2 separate regions of the Homo sapiens genome follow, and region 2 is reported to be linked to region 1. The links are microRNA targets in miRTarBase. Many come from high-throughput screens and were not tested one by one. Region 1 holds a microRNA gene; the other region holds the end of a gene's coding sequence.

Evidence for each region. The annotated mature microRNA hsa-miR-3689d reads GGGAGGUGUGAUCUCACACUCG and lies in region 1 at 2,270-2,291, opposite strand. An mRNA with a match to its seed (bases 2 to 7 or 8) in the 3' UTR can be bound and repressed. Matches are read on the target gene's strand: a 7mer-m8 pairs with bases 2 to 8, a 7mer-A1 pairs with bases 2 to 7 and ends in A, and an 8mer does both.
Region 2: miRTarBase lists MRPS16 as a target of hsa-miR-3689d. Seed matches in the 3' UTR shown: 7mer-m8 at 1,090-1,096.

What each region holds. Positions count from the first base shown.
Region 1 is chr9:134,848,063-134,851,228 of GRCh38, forward strand. MIR3689D2 (microRNA 3689d-2) reads right to left here and starts at 2,294; the gene lies at 2,215-2,294. MIR3689C (microRNA 3689c) reads right to left here and starts at 1,307; the gene lies at 1,236-1,307. MIR3689A (microRNA 3689a) reads right to left here and starts at 1,502; the gene lies at 1,425-1,502. MIR3689D1 (microRNA 3689d-1) reads right to left here and starts at 1,620; the gene lies at 1,547-1,620. It also overlaps MIR3689B, MIR3689E, MIR3689F and LOC101448202.
Region 2 is chr10:73,248,408-73,251,407 of GRCh38, reverse strand. MRPS16 (mitochondrial ribosomal protein S16) reads left to right here. Exons shown (of 3, transcript NM_016065.4): 3 at 417-2,559. The coding sequence ends at 556. It overlaps DNAJC9-AS1 (DNAJC9 and MRPS16 antisense RNA 1), which reads right to left. Exons shown (of 4, transcript NR_038373.1): 2 at 2,958-3,000. Among named protein-coding and RNA genes, the nearest start is that of DNAJC9-AS1, 2.5 kb to the right of the region's middle.

The sequences.
Region 1 (3,166 bases):
ACGAGAGAATTCCAGGAGATGCTCAGCCACAGGCATGACCCCCACAGTGCCGCAGGAGCACACACACACGCGCACACACGTTTACCCACTGACAGCTGTGGCCTGGTGAGACCAGGCTGAGGACAGCTGCCTCAGCGACCCAGGCTCAGATGCCACCAGTGCCCCATGTGGCCTCGGGGAATCTGCTGCTCAGAGCTCCTGTCTGCCCATTTGCACATGGGACCCATGAATGGAGGAGGCACTCTGGCCATGTGGCCAGAGGCCCCGCTCCTGTCCTGCAGATGTCTTGGTGACGAAACCCGATCCATGCATGTGGAGGAAGGTGGGGGCATCCCTGGAGCTGGCCTGTGCCAGGCCAAAGTGCTCCTTTGAGCTGCCCAGGGCTGTCCTAGTGAGTGTCCTCAGGCTCTGGCCACCCAGGAGGGCCAGGGGCGTCTGCATTCGGGAGTGGGTTGGAGAAGGGGACGATGGGAGAGCAGGAAGCTTTTGCAACTGCTCCAGGGCCATTGGGAGGGTGCAATTGGCTGACACCCGGAACTTCATTGATGCTTACCCCACGTGCCCTCTGTGTGGGTCCCGCTCCCAGTGCGGACACCACCTCCTAGCTCTCACTAGCTCATGCAGGCCTCTGGGGCCCTCCTGAATCCACACCTCCCAGGGCTGGGTCCTGGTTGTTCCCCAATGGGGAGCTGTGCCTCTCTATCACCAGCAGGCATGTGATCACACCTCCCAGGAAGCACAGGATCACACCTCCCAGGAAGCACGGGATCACACCTCCCAGGAAGCACGGGATCACACCTCCCAGGAAGCACGGGATCACACCTCCCAGGAAGCACGGGATCACACCTCCCAGGGAGCACGGGATCACACCTCCCAGGGAGCACGGGATCACACCTCCCAGGGAGCATGGGATCACACCTCCCAGGGAGCACGGGATCACACCTCCCAGGGAGCACTGGATCACACCTCCCAGGGAGCACCGGATCACACCTCCCAGGAACCACGATATCACACCTCCCAGGAAGCACAGGATCACACCTCCCAGGAAGCACAGGATCACACCTCCCAGGGAGCACCGGATCACACCTCCCAGGGAGCACCAGATCACACCTCCCAGGAACCACGATATCACACCTCCCAGGAAGCACAGGATCACACCTCCCAGGAAGCACAGGATCACACCTCCCAGGAAGCACAGGATCACACCTCCCAGGAAGCACGGGATCACACCTCCCAGGAACCACAATATCACACCTCCCAGGAACCACGATATCACACCTCCCAGGAACCACGATATCACACCTCCCAGGAACCACGATATCACACCTCCCAGGAAGCACGGGATCAGACCTCCTGGGGAGCACGGGATCACACCTCCCAGGAAGCACAGTATCACACCTCCCAGGAAGCACGGGATCACACCTCCCAGGAACCACGATATCACACCTCCCAGGAAGCACAGGATCACACCTCCCAGGAACCATGATATCACACCTCCCAGGGAGCACAGGATCAGACCCCCCAGGGAGCACAGGATCACACCTCTCAGGAAGAACAGGATCACACCTCCCGGGGAAGACGATAGCACACCTCCCAGCGAGTGTGAGATCACACCTCCCAGTGAGCGTGGGATCACACCTCCCAGGAAGCATGGTATCACACCTCCCAGGAAGCACAGGATCACACCTCCCAGGAAGCACGGGATCACACCTCCCAGGAAGCATGGGATCACACCTCCCAGGGAGCACCAGATCACACCTCCCAGGAACCACGATATCACACCTCCCAGGAACCACGATATCACACCTCCCAGGAACCACGATATCACACCTCCCAGGAACCACGATATCACACCTTCCAGGAAGCACAGGATCACACCTCCCAGGAAGCACGGGATCACACCTCCCAGGAACCACGATATCACACCTCCCAGGAACCACGATATCACACCTCCCAGGAAGCACAGGATCAGACCTCACAGGGAGCACGGGATCACACCTCCCAGGGAGCACGGGATCACACCTCCCAGGGAGCACGGGATCACACCTCCCAGGGAGCACGGGATCACACCTCCCAGGGAGCACGGGATCACACCTCCCAGGAACCACAATATCACACCTCCCAGGAAGCACGGGATCACACCTCCCAGGAACCATGATATCACACCTCCCAGGAAGCACAGGATCAGACCCCCCAGGGAGCACAGGATCACACCGCTCAGGAAGAACAGGATCACACCTCCCAGGGAAGACGATAGCACACCTCCCAGCGAGTGTGAGATCACACCTCCCAGTGAGCGTGGGATCACACCTCCCAGGAAGCATGGTATCACACCTCCCAGGAAGCACAGGATCACACCTCCCAGGAAGCATGGGATCACACCTCCCAGGAAGCACAGGATCACACCTCCCAGGAAGCACGGGATCACACCTCCCAGGAACCACGATATCATACCTCCCAGGAACCATGATATCATACCTCCCAGGAAGCACGGGATCAGACCTCCCAGGGAGCACGGGATCACACCTCCCAGGAACCACGATATCATACCTCCCAGGAACCATGATATCACACCTCCCAGGAGGCATGGGATCAGACCTCCCAGGGAGCACGGGATCACACCTCCCAGGAAAGCACGGGATCAGACCTCCCAGGGAGCACGGGATCACACCTCCCAGCGAGTGTGGGATCACACCTCCCAGGAAGCACAGCATCACACGTCCCAGGAAGCACGATATCACACCTCCCAGGAAGCACAGGATCACACCTTCCAGGAAGCACAGGATCACACCTCCCAGGAACCACGATATCACACCTCCCAGGAAGCACAGGATACACCTCCCAGGGAGCACAGGATCATACCTCCCAGGGAGCACAGGATACACCTCCCAGGGAGCACGGGATCACACCTCCCAGGGAGCACGGGATCACACCTCCCAGGGGAGCCACAGGTTCTTAATGGGACAAGGCCAGCGCTTAGCAGAAGTGTTCCTGGTGTTTCTTGGTGTCTGCCCATCAGTGGCCCCCACCTGGCTGCCTGTTGAAGTCATCCGGGGAGCCCCCTAAAAGTACGCATTCTAGGTCCACCTCTAGGCCTTCTAAGCCAAGCCACCCGCGGGGAGGTGGTGGTAGAACCTGCAGTGTGTGAGGTCCCACACCCCACCCC
Region 2 (3,000 bases), not on the chromosome of region 1:
GGCGATTCCATCTCAAAGAAAAAAAAAAAAGAGTTATTTCATTCCCTCTAGGCTGTTCAGGACTGAAGTGGGAGCTGAAGTTGTGATCTAATTGGCATTTTGAATCTGGAGGCCCCTTTTGTGGACTCCTTTGTAAGACTTTGGGTGACTGGTATTTTATGCTAAAAATAGGAATAGTATGTTTTGAATGGCCATCTGTCAGTTTACGTTTTTTAAAGTAAGGGGAATATTGTTAGGGAAGTAGACATCCACTGTCTCCTTGCCGGGGAGAAGTAGTACAGAGTTTGGCAAGTGAGGAGCATGGTTTGCATCCATGCACTGGGTCAGATCTCAGACCTCAGTTCTGTGAGACAGAGTTCCTAGGGAAGCATTGGCTTATACTGTGTTATAATAAGTGAAAAATCTGTTACTTTTAGGTCTTGCTGGCTTTTTCCCTCTGCATCCTATGATGATCACAAATGCTGAGAGACTGCGAAGGAAACGGGCACGTGAAGTCCTGTTAGCTTCTCAGAAAACAGATGCAGAAGCTACAGATACAGAGGCTACAGAAACATAAATGAGCTGACTTTAGTGAGCATAGCAGTGGGAACAAGGTCAAGGTCCTTTTGAAACACTGCAGCGATCTTAATTTTGTTAGATTTGGAGTTCAATAAATGGAGTATCCTGAGTTGCCCTTGCTCTTCTGGCCTGGCCTGCACAGGGCCCAGGGAGAGATTTGTTCTTGTGTGACTTAGAGCTGGGTGTGGGTACTAATTAGCTTTTTTCGACTTTGTCTTGGGATAGACAGTGGCTATGGGAGGATTGGACTTTTGAGTTGGGCTCTGGGTCTCTTGGACAACTTTACAATTTACTGGCTTCCAAGACTTCCTGCTTCAAAACCCCCAGCCAGACTATTCATGGCCCATTCAGATCTTCATGTTCATCCCACAAGTGCAAGAACAGTTAACCTTTCTTAATTGATTTTTGTAATTGGAGGTTTATATTGTCTTGCCTAATGCATATTCTCTTTTTTTTTTTTTTTTTGAGACGGAGTCTTGTTCTGTTGCCAGGCTGGAGTGCGGTGGTGCAATCTCAGCTCACTGCAATCTCCACCTCCTGGGTTCAAGAGGTTCTCCTGCCTCAGCCTCCTGAGTAGCCGGGGAGCTACAAGCATGCACCACCACACCCAGCTAATTTTTTTTTTTTTTTTGAGAGGAGTCTCGCTCTGTCGCCCAGGCTTGAGTGCAGTGGCGCGATCTCGGCTCACTGCAAGCTCTGTCTCCTGGGTTCATGCCATTCTCCTGCTTCAGCCTCCCGAGTAGTCCCAGGAGTAGCTGGGACTACAGGTGCCCACCACCACACCCAGCTAATTTTTTTGTATTTTTAGTAGAGATGGGGTTTCACCATGTTATCCAGGATGGTTTTGATCTCCTGACCTCGTGATCCGCCCGCCTTGGCCTCCCAAAAGTGCTGGGATTATAGGCGTGAGCCACCGCCCGGGCAAATTTTTGTATTTTTAGTAGAGATGGGGTTTCACCGTGTTGGCCAGGATGGTCTCAATCTGACCTTGTGATCTGCCCACCTCGGCCTCCCAAAGTGCTAGGATTACTGGCGTGAGCCACCACTCCTAGCCTTAATGCATATTCTTAAATATACAAAGGTAGATTTGTTATGAAAATTGCTTTGGGGCTCTAATAACCTACCTTTTAAGAATGAGAAACTGCTGGGCTTAAGGGAGTTCAGTATGAATCAAGATTGAACCATTCAAATGTGGCTGTGATTTCTGCATATATCATAGATGGGATCCTTCTGAGAATACTGGAATAGGGAATTAGGACACCAAGCCAATTCAGCTGTGAACCTTATTCTTGTACTTTTCTTTCTTGCTGGTAATTTTATGGAGCAGGTTAAGAAGGCTGCTCTGTGTTAGGATAAACTGTATACCAATAATGTTGACAACCTGTAATGAGTGTTGCATTTTACTTCTTGTATCTTTTCCTTCCTACCTTGATGCCAGTAATCTATAAGGGATCTTTATAGTTTGAATGTATTTGAATAACTTCAGTATACTTTAGTTCTACTTTTTTATTTGACTCACAACCATTCTTAGGTCTCAAGTATTCCCATGTGTTTTAAAAGCCTGAAGTCAGTGAGATGAAATTCAACATCAAGAATTTGAAGTAACTTGTAAGGAAAAATAATATAAAGATACCATTGGGGCAGTGGCTCACACCTGTAATCTCAGCACTTTGGGAGGCTGAGGTGGAAGGATCACTTGAAGCCAGAGTTTGAGACCAGCCTGTGCAACACAGCAAGACCCCGTCTCTACAAAAACTTAAAAAATTAGCTGGCTGTGGTGTTGCTCACCCATAGTTCCAGCTACTCGGGAAGCTGAGGCAGTAAGATCACTTGAGCCCAGGAGGCCGATGCTGCAGTGAACTGTGATTGTTCCACTACAGTCCAGCCTGGGTGACAGAGAAAAGAAAAAGAAAACATTACATAATTTGGCTAGAGCATAATAATTTGATTTTCTGGTTTTTGAAAATTTGAGTTGCAATAAAAGGATATTTCAGTGTGCGATTTCAATTTTCCGTAGCAAATGTATATATAGAAAAATGTTAAAATAGATGTATTTGAATACCTTAAAAAATACAAGAAACTGGAAGAAAGATAATATTGCAAAGCATCTACATATATCCTAGGCCTTTTGTGTACAAGGTTATTTGTGACAATTGTAAGGTATTATGAAGGCAGGTAGGATTATCTCCGTTTTACAGATAGGGAAGCTGAGGCCTAGAGGTGGAAACTTGCCCAGTGATGTAAGATTCATCTCCCGGTTATGCCCTCCTGGAAAGCCCTTCCCAACATATTATGTTGTCCATAGAGGGAAAAATGAGCAAAGACAGATGGCTTAACTCTGGTGTGTGACTAAGATATAGGAAATTTATAGAGGAGGTTCTATCAATGTGCCGACTTACTTTGTGTTTTATGTTCTGAGAACGATTACCAGCCATCTCAAAT